Linked DNA regions of Homo sapiens. The protein of the gene in region 1 purifies or fractionates together with the protein of each later gene. This does not show direct contact. Each region holds a gene or a part of one and is shown in the gene's direction. Other genes may lie near its edges.

Evidence for each region. Proteins that work in one complex are often made in the same cells at the same time.
Region 2: the proteins of OR6T1 (region 1) and EIF2AK3 purify together in Homo sapiens (affinity purification with mass spectrometry; one large-scale study listed by BioGRID and IntAct). This does not show direct contact.
Region 3: the proteins of OR6T1 (region 1) and MBTPS2 purify together in Homo sapiens (affinity purification with mass spectrometry; one large-scale study listed by BioGRID and IntAct). This does not show direct contact.
Region 4: the proteins of OR6T1 (region 1) and SAR1B purify together in Homo sapiens (affinity purification with mass spectrometry; one large-scale study listed by BioGRID and IntAct). This does not show direct contact.

What each region holds. Positions count from the first base shown.
Region 1 is NC_000011.10:123,942,128-123,945,305, reverse strand, and holds OR6T1 (olfactory receptor 6T1), read left to right. Parts: upstream 1-1,467; coding exon 1,468-2,439; downstream 2,440-3,178. UniProt on the Homo sapiens protein: Odorant receptor.
Region 2 is NC_000002.12:88,617,465-88,620,964, reverse strand, and holds part of EIF2AK3 (eukaryotic translation initiation factor 2-alpha kinase 3 isoform 1 precursor), read left to right. Parts: intron 1-3,500. UniProt on the Homo sapiens protein: Metabolic-stress sensing protein kinase that phosphorylates the alpha subunit of eukaryotic translation initiation factor 2 (EIF2S1/eIF-2-alpha) in response to various stress, such as unfolded protein response (UPR).
Region 3 is NC_000023.11:21,863,617-21,867,116, forward strand, and holds part of MBTPS2 (membrane-bound transcription factor site-2 protease), read left to right. Parts: intron 1-3,500. UniProt on the Homo sapiens protein: Zinc metalloprotease that mediates intramembrane proteolysis of proteins such as ATF6, ATF6B, SREBF1/SREBP1 and SREBF2/SREBP2.
Region 4 is NC_000005.10:134,630,029-134,634,280, reverse strand, and holds the start of SAR1B (small COPII coat GTPase SAR1B), read left to right. Parts: upstream 1-1,452; 5' UTR 1,453-1,553; intron 1,554-2,081; exon of another isoform or gene 2,082-2,204; intron 2,205-4,252. UniProt on the Homo sapiens protein: Small GTPase that cycles between an active GTP-bound and an inactive GDP-bound state and mainly functions in vesicle-mediated endoplasmic reticulum (ER) to Golgi transport.

The sequences.
Region 1 (3,178 bases):
TGTTTTCCTTATCTGAAATGATTATGTTATCCTGAAACAGTGCTCTGGCCTCCTTTGCTGGGTTTTATTATGGTATTTCTTTGATTTTGGAGACACAAGCCCTAGACTAGCAGAATGAAGCATTATTATTACTTAGCTACTTAAATCCCAGACTTATTCTTTCCAAAATTGATGTAAACAGAACAGAAATATCCTTCAAACCTGGATTTCTTGCCTCAGTTCAATACTATCTGTTAAAGTAGCTTCAGACAGAATTGAGAAAATATCTGTGCTCCTCGTCTTTAACACTGTTGGTCTGAAGTAATAGATATTCCTCAGTTAAACTGTCTAAACTCTCAACACTTCATTCCTTGTCAATTAAACAATGTAACTTGATGCTCATTTTCATTCTTTTTGTCTTAGAACATTTTCCATTTTCCCTGATTAGGCCAAATCTATGTGATTCTGAGTATTTGGTGCTAGATGTTTAAAAAAAAAAAAAAGAACCCAAGATATCTAATTGTCTAATGAAATCCAGTCCTTCAAAACATGTGGATACATTTTACAGGATTCCAAAAGCTCCAAGGACAAGATGAACATATCTCCAAATTAAGGCAAAAGTTGAGAAGGCAAGTTGATATATACCATCTCCTTTGAGACCATTCTCCCTTATTCCTCATTTTATACTATTAGAATATTGAGCAAGCTGAAGGTAAGAGAAGCTAGTAAGCATTCCACAAGGAAGAAGGATTTCTAGCATTCTACAGGAGTCTGGATTGGGGGAAAAAAGAAAAATAACACTTTATGACAGGACTGGGCTTTGCACAATCCGGTCCTATTTGGCTTCATGGCTGACTAATGAAAATTAAATCTCTGAGTATACCGAGAGCCCAGATTTTTAAATTCTGTTATTTTATGTCAAGCCAGGACACAGAAGGACCATAAACACTAAAATGAGAGTTCTTAATACCAGTAAAATTTGTTCATGGTGCATTTGTTCTGTGAAGTCTTCTCTGACCCCTCTACTCCTCTGGACTCGTCTAAAGCCACACTACTCACACGGTTCTCTGCCTGAGCTCAACAGTATCAGCAGCATGTGCTGGAGTCACAGAAGCTCAGTATGAAATCCTGCCTCTACCACCTGTTTCCTACCTGATCATAGAAGAGTCACTTAAACTCCCTTCGTCATCCTTTTCTTATCTTTGAAAATAGTAAAACATAGTTTTAAGAGTAGCTAGGAGAAGAGATACTGTGCACCGTGTAAATTTTCAGATATATAATTGATGTTCAATATTGCCATGCTGCTTACTATTGTAATTTGTTTCTCTCTTTGTAAGTCACGTGCAGACCAAACTATAGATCAACATATTCTCAGAATGTAAGGAAGTGTTGGGTGTTCAATATTATTTTACCGATTGGTTAAATGATGATTGGTAGCTATAGACCAGTTACAGAGTTCTGTTTCATTTCCCCTGCAGGTGACTGAAGATGAACCCTGAAAACTGGACTCAGGTAACAAGCTTTGTCCTTCTGGGTTTCCCCAGTAGCCACCTCATACAGTTCCTGGTGTTCCTGGGGTTAATGGTGACCTACATTGTAACAGCCACAGGCAAGCTGCTAATTATTGTGCTCAGCTGGATAGACCAACGCCTGCACATACAGATGTACTTCTTCCTGCGGAATTTCTCCTTCCTGGAGCTGTTGCTGGTAACTGTTGTGGTTCCCAAGATGCTTGTCGTCATCCTCACGGGGGATCACACCATCTCATTTGTCAGCTGCATCATCCAGTCCTACCTCTACTTCTTTCTAGGCACCACTGACTTCTTCCTCTTGGCCGTCATGTCTCTGGATCGTTACCTGGCAATCTGCCGACCACTCCGCTATGAGACCCTGATGAATGGCCATGTCTGTTCCCAACTAGTGCTGGCCTCCTGGCTAGCTGGATTCCTCTGGGTCCTTTGCCCCACTGTCCTCATGGCCAGCCTGCCTTTCTGTGGCCCCAATGGTATTGACCACTTCTTTCGTGACAGTTGGCCCTTGCTCAGGCTTTCTTGTGGGGACACCCACCTGCTGAAACTGGTGGCTTTCATGCTCTCTACGTTGGTGTTACTGGGCTCACTGGCTCTGACCTCAGTTTCCTATGCCTGCATTCTTGCCACTGTTCTCAGGGCCCCTACAGCTGCTGAGCGAAGGAAAGCGTTTTCCACTTGCGCCTCGCATCTTACAGTGGTGGTCATCATCTATGGCAGTTCCATCTTTCTCTACATTCGTATGTCAGAGGCTCAGTCCAAACTGCTCAACAAAGGTGCCTCCGTCCTGAGCTGCATCATCACACCCCTCTTGAACCCATTCATCTTCACTCTCCGCAATGACAAGGTGCAGCAAGCACTGAGAGAAGCCTTGGGGTGGCCCAGGCTCACTGCTGTGATGAAACTGAGGGTCACAAGTCAAAGGAAATGATCTTATTAAATGGGAGATTAAATGTTTATTGAAAATTTTTTAAATGTGCAAGAAGTTTAAGGGATGTAGGCAACACTGTTCACTTTTCTCAGCTAATGAAAGAACAGTCTTCATAAATATACAACATGAAATACGGTGGTAAACCTTCATTTTCCCTCCCTACAACCTTCCTTGTGCCTCCTCCTCCCCACAGAGAAGGCTGATCCAATTGGTCAAATTTCTTTCAAGATGGAATCCTTGGATTGGAGAGCATGTGTGAGCACGTGACCCGCATACAGGGAGGCTCCTCCTTCTCTTCGTGTGTGCTTAAACACTTTTCTTACTGCCTCAGTCTCCTGTGTCATGTAGCCAATCAGAAGATGCTGAAATATGGAGATTCAGATTTGGAGCTCAGTGGGGAGTAAGAGGGTCTCTGAGGTCTTCCAACTAGACTGGGTACTGCAAATAAAATTAACCAGAACCTCTGTATTATTAGAAAATCAAATTCTGGCTGCAGTAATAAATGGTTCTCTGATTTGCATTTGTTATTGCTCCTTATGTAACTAGCAGCTCCTATAGGAATCTCATAAAGGAAGAATGTTAAGACCAGTGAAATATTTGGATAGCCCTAATTCCTAAGTCAAACTCTACTAACAAACTCAAATATGGCAACAAACTGAAATATGGCAACACTCATTTAATCATTCCTTTAAGAAATATTATTAAATCTCTAATATGGCAAGGCTCCAACTAGGGTGAG
Region 2 (3,500 bases), on another chromosome or scaffold:
TTTTGTGTAGATAATATGTTTGTCCTACCAAGGTTTATTCATTCAACAAACATTTATTTAGTTTTACTGGGGCCCAGGTACTGCTAGGCCCTGAGAGTAGATAAATGTCTTTTCCGTAGGAAGCTCCAAGCCTGACAGATCATTGTGTTAAAGAATTAACTATCCTCGAATGGATAATAAGTGACATAAAAGTAGTGTGAGTGAAAAGAATGGAAGTGGCAAGTTATTGAGTCCCGGAATGAGAAAAATATCAAGGACAGTGTAGGCAACAGAATAGTGTGAGCAAGGGCACAGAGCAGGGAGTTTGTACAGTGAGCACAGAGCAGTGGTTCCTAAGCCAGGGCTCCAGGACCCCTACAGATCTGCAAAGATAAAAATGGGGATCCATGAGACTGCCAGTATTTTAAAATAACCTAATGGAAATTAAATATTTAATAGAAGGTACATTAAAAAGTGAAGTTCCTTTGCTTTGAACTAGAATTATATAAAACCTTATATAGTAATTACAGTTCTTTCAAGAAATGTTGAATATTTTGATTGGTTCTTAAGTATTTCCTCTAAAGATGGGAGAATTTATTATACACAGTGTTCATTTGGCAGGTGGAATAATTTAAGACATGGAGGAAAATATAGACAAGAGAACTTTTGAAAAGTTCACCCCATGGAAAGGGGGGAGTGTGGAGCTGGGAAGGAGAGGGGAGAGAGGGTTGGGCTGGTACAAGAGGCAGAAAAATGAGATTAGGAAAGTACACCGAAACCAAATTGTGAAAGGCTTTATGTGCCACACCAAGCAGTGTGACCTTTCTTTTTCAGTGGGCACAGGGAACCTTGGAAGTTTATCAGATCTCTATTACAGAAACAAAACTGTGGGAAGAAGAGAGGGGAAAGAAACCTGAGGCAGGAAAATGTGTTAGAAAGCATTTTAAGGTGTTCTGATGAGAAATGAGAATCTTCTAGAGCAAGAGCTGTGGTAATGAAGAAGGCAAAGATTTTTTTTTTTTTTTTTTTTGAGACGGAGTCTCGCTCTGTCGTGCAGGCTGGAGTGCAGTGGTGCAATCTTAGCTTACTGCAACCTCCGCCTCCCAGGTTCAAGTGATTCTCCTGTCTCAGCCTCTCCCAATTAGCTGGGATTACAGGTGCATGCCATCACACCCGGCTTACTTTTGTATTTTTAGTAGAGATAGGGTTTCACCATGTTGGCCGGGTTGGTCTTGAACTCCTGATCTCAGGTGATCCATCCGCCTTGGCCTCCCAAAGTGCTGGGATTACAGGGGTGAGTCACCGTGCCCAGCCAGAAAAGATTTAAGAGAAGCTTCAGAAATAGAATTAAGAGTACATGGCTGTTGTTTAAATGTAGAGGATGAGGGAGCACAAAGAGTTGATGTCTGATTTAAATGTTAGGTAATAGGATGGATGGCTACCCTTTTAAGTGGCAGGAATAGATTGTGGGAAAGAAGTTTCCTGAGCCTGTTATGGTGATAACAAGTAGATCCTGCTGAAGATGCAGAACTAGGATAGGGGAGAGATGGTGAACTATAAATCCTGTACAGGTTTGGGGGCTGTCATACTATAGATGGAGGTGAAGCTGTAGACATTGACCATCTAGGTAGAACATGTAGTACAAACAGGAAAATGCCTGCTCTATAGATAGAAAACTATAAGGATGATAGGTGAGGCCGGGCACGGTGGCTCACGCCTATAATCCCAGCACTTTAGGAGGCTGAAGCGGGCAGATCACCTGAGGTCAGGAGCTCGAGACCAGCCTGGCCAACATGGTGAACCCCCACCTCTACTAAAAAATACAAAAATTAGCTGGGCATGGTGGTGGGCACCTGTAATCCCAGCTACTTGGGAGGCTGAGGCAGGAGAATCGCTTGAACCTGGGAGGCGGAGGTTGCCATTGAGCAGAGATCGTACCATTGGGCGACAGAGCAAGACTCCGTCCCCCCAAAAAAAAAAAAAAAGAATGATAGATGAGGACCCAGGAGGGACTGGTCCTGTAGAAACCAGGAAAGAAAAATGTCCAGAATGAGGAGCTGGCCACAACGGTGGCTTTTGTGAAGACAGGCCTGATGAGGGGAGTGAATCTGGCAGTTAGGAAACCATTGAAAATCTTTCTTGAGAGTGGCTTCCAAGGATTGGATCATGGGTGAGAGTTCAGGGCTTGCTGAGGAATCATCCAAATAAATGCTTTTGTAAGCTACAGCAAAATGTAAGTGAGAGACAGAAGTCTCCAAAGTATTTACTGACAGAGATGTTCAATATGCCTTCTTCATCCACATCATAAATTTAATTTTTCTCTATGGAAATGACTAAGGTAAAACAGTGTTTGCACAACTGGTCTTATGAGACTCACCTGGGGTGCTTGTTAGGCTACATTCTCCCAGTCTCCCTCTTAGGATGAGACGTGGGAACCTTTAATGGTTTTTAACAAGCACTCCAGATTATTTTTATGATCAGGTACACTTGGGTTACACTGAGATAGGTGAAATAACCATATTTTGCCTATGAAAAAATAACTCGAATGAAGCCATGAGGAGAATGAGAGGAGAGCCTTGGGGATGTACACCCAGGTCTGACTTAGGCTTTGGTTCTTTCCACTGGAAAAGCTGTCTCTGCAGTTCCTTCAATTCTTGAATAAGTTAAGAGTTTTTCATCTTGATCTTGGAACCCTCAAAATAGGGCAAGTGGTCTTGGGGAGATAAATAACCTTATATTCTTCCTGTTTTGGGAGGTGTTCATTTTTCACTTTTTATCTCTGTTTATGTTTCTTCTTCTTTCTGGAGACAGCATTTCACTCTAACACTTAGGCTGGACTGCAGTGGTGCAATAACAGTTCACTGCAGCCACGACCTCCTGGGCACAAGCAATCCTCCCACCTCAGCCTCTGAGTAGCTGGGACTACAGGCATCTGCCACCATACCCGGCTAATTTTTAAAGTATTTTTGTACATTTGGAGTCTCAGTATGTTGCATAGGCTGGTCTGAAACTCCTGGCCCTCCAAGCAGTTCTCCTGCGTCAGTCTCCCTGAGTGTTGGGTTTACAAAGGAAAGCCACTGCACCTGGCTGTGTTTGTTCTAAATGCCATACCTTTTTTAAGTTCAACTTTTATTTCAGATACAGGAAGTACATGTGCTGATTTGTTACATAGTATATTACACCCAGGTAGTGAGCATAGTACCCAATGGTAGTTTTTCTTTTTTTTTTTTGAGATGGAGTCTCGCTGTGTTGCCAGGCTGGAGTGCAGTGGCGTGATCTTGGCTCACTGCAACCTCTGCCTCCTGGGTTCAAGCGATTCCCCTGCCTTAGCCTCCTGAGTAGGTGGGACTACAGGCATGCACCACCACGCCCGGCTAATTTTTTTTTATATTTTAGTAGAGATGGGGTTTCACCACGTTGGCCAGGATGGTCTTGATCTCCTGACCTCGTGAGCCACCGCACCTGGCCCCAATGGTAGTTTTTCAACTCACCCCCGGCCAGTACTCTGCAGTGTCTATTGC
Region 3 (3,500 bases), on another chromosome or scaffold:
TACTGAGACTTCTTTTTCCTTAAAATTGACACCTAATGTCCAAAACTAAGACTAAAGAAGGTTATATATATCCCCACCAATAATTGGGTCCACGCACCTCTTTCAGAGCTTATTAAATGGTATAGAACTAACTAGTCCCGCTATCCCAAACATCACCTAGCCCATTAACTTCTCATTCCCAGTTGTGAGTTGTCAGCCTAGTAGACAGCTGAACAGCTTTGCCCTGCCGTCTTTCCCAGGCAAGGGGGCAAGGTTAGGGGTGGGGAGGAGATGCTTATCTTGCCCTGAATTCAAGACAGGACAAATTCAAAGATCTGGAATTGTCTCTAAAAAGAAGAGTTTAGTATCCCTGCTAAATGTTTGCTGAGCTGTGAGCTCACCGTGGTGTAGCCATCAAAGTGGAAGACAACGTGGGAAACCTGTGTGTTCCTCAAAGTTTAGGGATGTACATAAATTATGTATTTAGAGGGAGAGAGAAATATGTGTGTACCCTCTGCCTACTTTATTGGTTTTAAATTTAGGAATATAATTTCATTGCTTCTAAAATGTCTTCCCACTTCCATGTAAAAAGTCCAGGGTGTCATTTAAATCTAGTTTTTTGTTTTGTTTTGTTTTGTTTTTTGTTTGTTTGTTTGAGACGGAGTTTTGCTCTTGTTGCCCAGGCTGGAGTGCAATGGCACGATCTTGGCTCACTGCAACCTCCGCCTCCTGAGTTCAAGTGGTTCTCCTGCCTCAGCCTCCGAAGTAGCTGGGATTACAGGCACCTGCCACCACACCCAGCTAATTTTTTATGTTTTTTTAGAGATGGGGTTTCACCACGTTGGCCAGGCTGGTCTCGAACTCCTGACCACAGGTGATCCACCCGCCTCAGCCTCCCAATAAATCTAGTTTTATAATGCTACTTTTAAAGAGTTGCATATATAGGCCAGGTGTGGTGACTCACGCCTTTAATCCCAACACTTTGGGAGGCTGAGGTGGGCAGGTTACTTGAGCTCAGAAGTTTGAGACCAGCCTGGGCAACATGGCAAGATTCCGTCTCTACTAAAAATACAAAAAATTAGCTGAGCATGGTGGTGCATGCCTGTGGTCCCAGCTACTCAGGAGGCTGAGGTGGGAGGATGGCTTGAGCCTGGGGGGCAGAGGTTGCAGTGAGCAGAGATTGTACCACTGCACTCCAGCTGGATGACAGAGTGAGAACTCTGTTTCAAAAGCAAAATAAGTTGTATATGTAATAGGTTTTTTTCTTTTTTTCTTTCTTTCTTTCTTTTTTTTTTTTTTTTCTGAGACAGGATATCACCCTGTCACCCAGGCTGAAGGGCAGTGGTACAATCACCGCTCACTGCAGCCTCGACCTCCTGGGTTCAAGTGATCATCCCACTTCTCAGTCTCCCAAGTCGCTGGCACCACAGGTGTGCACCACCACACCCAGCTAATTTTTGTATTTTTTGTAGAGAGGCGGGTCTTGCCATGTTGCCCAGGCTGGTCTCAAACTCCTGGGTTCAAGAGATACAACCACCTCGGCCTCCCAAAGTGCTGGGATTACAGGCATGAGCTAGAGCTACCACACGGGGCTATTTCTTTAAAAAAAAAAAAATGAAATATATACTGATTTTGAAAAGAAAAAGCCACTAAACATCTGTCTGAAATTTGGTGGGGAAAAAAGAGAGATGAGATGAGATACTTCCTGAGCACACTGTAAATGAAGATGTTTAAATTTTGAATTATGGTGTATAGAATTTTTAGAAGAGGGATTAAACAATACCTGCTATCTGGTTCCAAGTGAAGAGTAGATTGCTTTAAAAAAATTCTCTATGCTTTGTTGCTAAAAATTCCTTTATAAATAGTGGAAGTAAAATTTGACCATTCTGTTTCTATACTTAAATGTTTTTAAATCCTTCTTAAATATTGAAAACCCTGTTCTTATTTGTATAAGCCAGTTGTAAGTTTATTTGAGGGCAAAGTAAAAAACATTGGTGATAAAAGTGATGTTGTGATTATAGTAAGCTGGAATTTAAACTTAGAACACAGTGTAAGCCTTGCCAAATTGATAGTTTACATTCTTTCAGCTATAACTACTGTGAGTTATTCAAGGAATATTGAGTTGTTATTTTACCTATTCAGTCATCTGGTGACCTGTAAATCATTTCTGTGTGTTTAGAGAATTAAGGTAGTTGTGGTTTTTTTTTATTATTATTTGCAAACCACACTAAGCATAAGTAGGGCTTGATTGGGGTAGCCCTTAGCCCCCGCTTAATAATAATCACCAGCTTCAAGTCTATGGGTATCTTGCTGCCTTGATGACAACTATAGATTTTCTTCTCCCTTGACCCATGATTTTTGTTTGTTTGTTTGTTTTGTTTTTTTGTTTCTTTGAGACAGAGTATCTTTCTGTCACCCAGGCTGGTCTCAAACTCCTGGTCTCAAGTGATCTGCCCACCTCAGCCTCCCAAAATGCTGGGATTACAGGCATGAGCCACCGTGCCCGGCCCCATGATATTTTTAAACCCTGAGTCTCCCATATTCTGATTTTTCTACTGTTGCCCCAGTCTCATTGCTTAGTATATAAACCAGAATAAAATTGATCCTCAATTCCATCTAAGTCCTACTGTTTCTTGGCTGTTGTTTTATTAAAATCATGAAGAAAGCAAAAAAGGCATTCCATCACAACTATTGAAAAGTGTTCTAGAAGTTACAGTCATTGCTATAAGACCAAACAGGAAGGAAAAGATGAGGTATGAATGTTGGAGGAGATAAATGATTATTATTAGCAAATAATGGAAAATCCAAGAGAATAAAGACTAAGACATCCTAAATGGAAAGTTCAGTTTGGTGATTAATTACAAAGTAAATATACAAAAATAAATGTAGTATTCCTGTGTATCTGAAAGAAACAGATCATGTAATAGGAAGAAAAGATCTCATTCAGAAAGTAATGTGACATATAAAAAATAAAAAACTAACATTTTAAAAGAAGTACACAGGGCCTATATAGAGAAACTACAAATCTGTACTGAGAGATGTAGAAGATTTCAGTAAACAGATGTCGTGTTCCTATGTCAGAAATGTAAAATTATGGATTTACCCCTAGTTATTGCAGTCATTGCAGTGACATTAGAAATCCTAATGTGGGCCAGGCGTAGTGGCTCACACCTGTAATCCTAGCGCTTTGGGAGGCCGAGGTGGGCGGATCACTTGAGGTCAGGAGTTCAAAACCAGTCTGGCCAACATGGTGAAACCCTGTCTCTACTAAAACTACAAAAAAATTAGCCGGGCGTGGTGGTGGGCGCCTGTAATCCCAGCTACTCGGGAGGCTGAGGCAGGTGAATCACTTGAACCCAGGAGGCAGAGGTTGCAGTTAGCTGAGATCTCGCCACTGGGCAACAGAGCGTGACTCTGTCTCAAAAAAAAAAAAAAAGAAAAAAAGAAAAAAAATCCTAATTTGAATAATATTTGGTGGTTGTCAAAATGATTCTCAAATTTATCAGAAAGGATAAGGGGAG
Region 4 (4,252 bases), on another chromosome or scaffold:
CTACATGGGAGGATTCCTTGAGCCCAAGAGATTGAGGCTGCAGTGAGCTATGATAGCACCACTGGACTCCAGCCTGGGAGAAAGAGCAAGACCGTCTATATATATATATAATTTTTAAATTTATTTTTAATTTAATTAATTTATTTATTTTTTGAGACGGAGACAGAGTCTCGCTCTGTCGCCCAGGCTAGAGTGCAATGGTGCAATCTCGGCTCACTGCAACCTCCACCTCCCGGGTTCAAGCAATTCTCCTGCCTCGGCCTACCGAGTAGCTGGCGTTACAGGCACCTGCCATCATGCCTGGGTAATTTTCGTATTTTTGTAGAGATGGGGTTTCACCATGTTGGCCAGGCTGGTCTTGAACTCTAACCTCAGGTGATTCACCCACCTTGACCTCCCAAAGTGCTGAGATTACAGGTGTGAACCACCGCGCCTGGCCAAGACCGTCTATAAAACAACTGAATAACCAGCTGAATAAAAGCTGAATAACCAGCATCCAACACATTATCTGGTACGTAGCTACATTGTGTAAATCACTGGTGAATTCAATAAGCACAAATAACAAAAAAAGAAAAAAAAATGAATTCAATAAGCACGTGTACTTTGAAAATGTATTTTAGGCAGGGCGCGGTGGTGATCCCAGCACTTTGGGAGGCTGAGGCAGGTGGATCACTTATGCTAGGGAGTTTGAGACCAGCCTGGCCAACATGATGAAACCCGGTCTCTACTAAAAATACAAAAATTAGCCGGGCGCAGTGGCTCACGCCTGTAATCCTAGCACTTTGGGAGGCCGAGGCGGGCGGTTCACTTTAGGTCAAGAGTTCGAGACCAGCCTGGCCAACATGGTGAAACCCCGTCTCTACTAAAAATACAAAAATTAGCCGGGCATGGTGGTGCGCGCCTGTGCTCCCAGCTACTCAGGAGGCTGAGGTAGAAGAATCGCTTGAACCCGGGAGGCGGAGGTTACAGTGAGCTGAGATCGCGCCATTGCACTCCAGCCTGGGCGACAAAATCGAGGCTCCGTTTCAAAAAAAAAAAAAATTAGCCGGACAGTGGTGGCGGGTGCCTGTAGTCCCCGCTACTGGGGAGGCTGAGGTAGGAGAATCTCTTGAATCCAGGGGGTGGAGGCTGCAGTGAGCCGAGATCGTGCCACTGCACCCCAGCCTGGGAGACAGAGCGAGACAACGTCTCAAAAAAAAAAAATGCCAAAAGTAATTTCCCCTAGGGAGGCATGGGGTGTTCCTTTCTCGGCACGCAGGCCCCTAAAATCCCTTCGGGCGGGCGGGTGTGGGGAGACCAGGCGGCTGGGAGACCCAGGCGGTGTTAGGGGTTGCGAGCAGCCTCGCTCAACTGGGGAATTGGCGGCAAGACTGCCAGGAGGCGGAACCTAGGGCGCTCGGCGACGCGGTCCTGCGGACTGTCGCTAGTGAGGCACCCGCCGGCCCGGAAGGGGCTGATGCGAACTGGGGCCACGGCAGCCATCGCGCTTTGCAGTTCGGTCTCCTGGTGTACGGCCAACGCCAAGTAGGGGATTGCGTTCCCTCCAGTCGCAGGTGAGTGACAGCCCCTCCTTCTGGGAGGACCGGTGGGCAGCAGCTATGGATCCCCTAGAAGGCGCACTTTTAGGGCCAAGACCTACTCTGAGTCCCTGCCTGTGGCACTGCGTGAAGGGGCGCCTGTTTTTCACCCCGGGGTTAGGCGGCGCGAGGGAGGACAGGTCTCATCCATGCTCCGCGGGGCCGTCTGATAGCCCTCGAGGCAGAACACTGCTGCTGTCAGACGCTTGGTCTTTTCAGGAAAGAACGAGGTGGCTGCAGGCAAGCCCCTTCCTTCCCCTGGGCCTCAGTTTCCTTACCTGGTAAGGTGAAGGTGGCGGGTCTCACTGACAGCTGAAGAGGCTGTGACACGGCCTGGTGTTTTCAGCGCTCCCAATTAGTGTAGAGGCAAATTGAGCTTCCTTACTAGTACTGGTTAACGTTTTCCGTAGCCCAAAGTCCCAGTTAAGTGGAAAAAAGATACACTGTTGAGAAAACTGTACTGATTTTTGTTTTAATTTTTTAAATTTTTGTTGTTGTTTTGAGACAGAGTTTCCCTCTTGTCGCCCAGGCTGGAGTGAAGTGGCACGATCTCGGCTTACTGCAAGCTCCGCCTCCCGGGTTCACGCCATTCTCCTGCCTCAGCCTCCCGAGTAGCTGGGACTACAGGTGCCCGCCACCACGCACCGCTAATTTTTTTGTATTTTTTAGTAGAGATGGGGTTTCACCGTGTTAGCCAGGATGGTCTCTTATCTCCTGACCTCGTGATCCGCCTGCCTCGGCCTCCCAAAGTGCTGGGATTATAGGCGTGAGCCACCGCATCCGGTCTAACTTTTCTATTTTTAGTAGAGATGGGATTTCTCTATGTTGGCCAGTCTGGTCTCCAACTCCTGACCTCAGGTGATCTGCTCGCCTCGGCCTCCCAAAGTGCTGGGATTAAAGGCATGAGCCACCTCAGTGGGCCACTGTACTGATTTTTAAGGTGTTGAAGCTTTTCCAAGAAGATTTGTTTTAAAACAGCTAAAACTTTGACATTGTTAGCTGAAAGAACCAAATTCGTCAGCAATTTAAGGTGTTTGGTACAGTGGACAAAATGAGGTGAAGAAGTCCTTTTAACTTGAAAAATTAAACATAGTATTATTTATTTGTGTGTTCTTACATCAGCCTCTATATTACTAAGTGTCTTTGAAGACGTCCTATATTCCGTGTTAAAGTATCAGTGAAGAGTAGGTCACATTGAAACAATGAAAGAAGGAAAGAAAAGGAACATTTATTGACTACTATGAGTAAGGCACTAGCTGTCATTTTACAGATGACAAATAAATGGTGGTGCCAGTATAGCAAAGCAACATGATTATCTACTATTATACCTTTCAGTAGACTTGTGTCTGTCACCAAAATGTTTTGAACTTAAAAAATGTTAAGATAGTTCATTGGCATTTTCTGAGTTTGTAGAAAAGGAAGGTGTCTTCATTTTAGAAATGTCAGAGATGCACTGTCAGTAATTACAAAGATTAGCAGTTTAAATAAGGTATATTTTAACCTTCCTTTGACTTGCATTATTGTACTGGAATAGAAATTCAAGCAAGAATTAAGAAAAAAGATGAGTCTAACAGAAATGAAAATCAGCCTGGGCAACATAGCAAGACCCAGTCTCTACATTAAAAAAAAAAAAATTTGCTGGGTGCAGGGCCCTGGCTAGCAGGCCAGTAGTCCCAGCTACTCGCTGCTGAGATGGGGGGTTTGCTTGAAGCCAGGTCAAGACTACAGTGACCTGTGATCATGCCACTGCACTCCAGCCTGGGTGAAAGAAAAAGACATTGTTGCTAAAAAAAAAAAAAAAAAAAAAAAAAAAAGAAAAAAAAAGAAATAGAAAAGGAAATGAAAATCATTGCCACATCATTTGAAGCTTACAAGTTGGAATGCTATATTAGTATTTCTTTTCTTTTTTCTTTTTTTTTTTTTTTGAGACGGAGTCTCGCTCTATCGCCCAGGCTGGAGTGCAGTGGCTCCAGGCTGACTGCAACCTCCACCTCCAGGGTTCAAGTGATTCTCCTGCCTCAGCCTCTCAAGTAGCTAGGATTACAGGCATGCACCACCACATCCTGCTGATTTTTGTATTTTTAGTAGAGATGGGGTTTCACCATGTTGGCCAGGCTGGTCTTGAACTCCCGAACTCAAGTGATCTGTCCGGCTTGGCCTCCTAAAGTGCTTGGATTACAGGCGTGAGCCACTGTGTCCTGCTATAGGTGTATTTCTACACTTACTTTTTTTTTTTTTTTTTTTTTTGAGATAGAGTTTCGCTCTTGTTGCCCAGGCTGGAGTGCAATGGCGTGATCTCCAGCTCACTGCAACCTCTGCCTCCTGGGTTCAAGCGATTCTCCTGCCTCAGCCTCCCGAGTAGCTGGGATTACAGGCATACACCACCACACTCAGCTAATCTTGTATTTTTAGTAGAAACAAGATTTTTCCTTTTTGGTCAGGCTGGTCTCGAACTCCCAACCTCAGGTGATCCGCCCCCCTCAGCCTCCCAAAGTGCTGGGATTACAGGCGTGAGCCACCTCCCCCAGCCTTCTACACTCATTTCGTTAAGTACTCACTTGGCTGAGCATAGTATTTCTACGCTCGCTCACTTTAAATACTCATCCCAACTCGGGGTTTCACTATGTTGGCCAGGCTGGTCTCGAACTCCTGACCTCAAGTGATCTGCCTGCCTT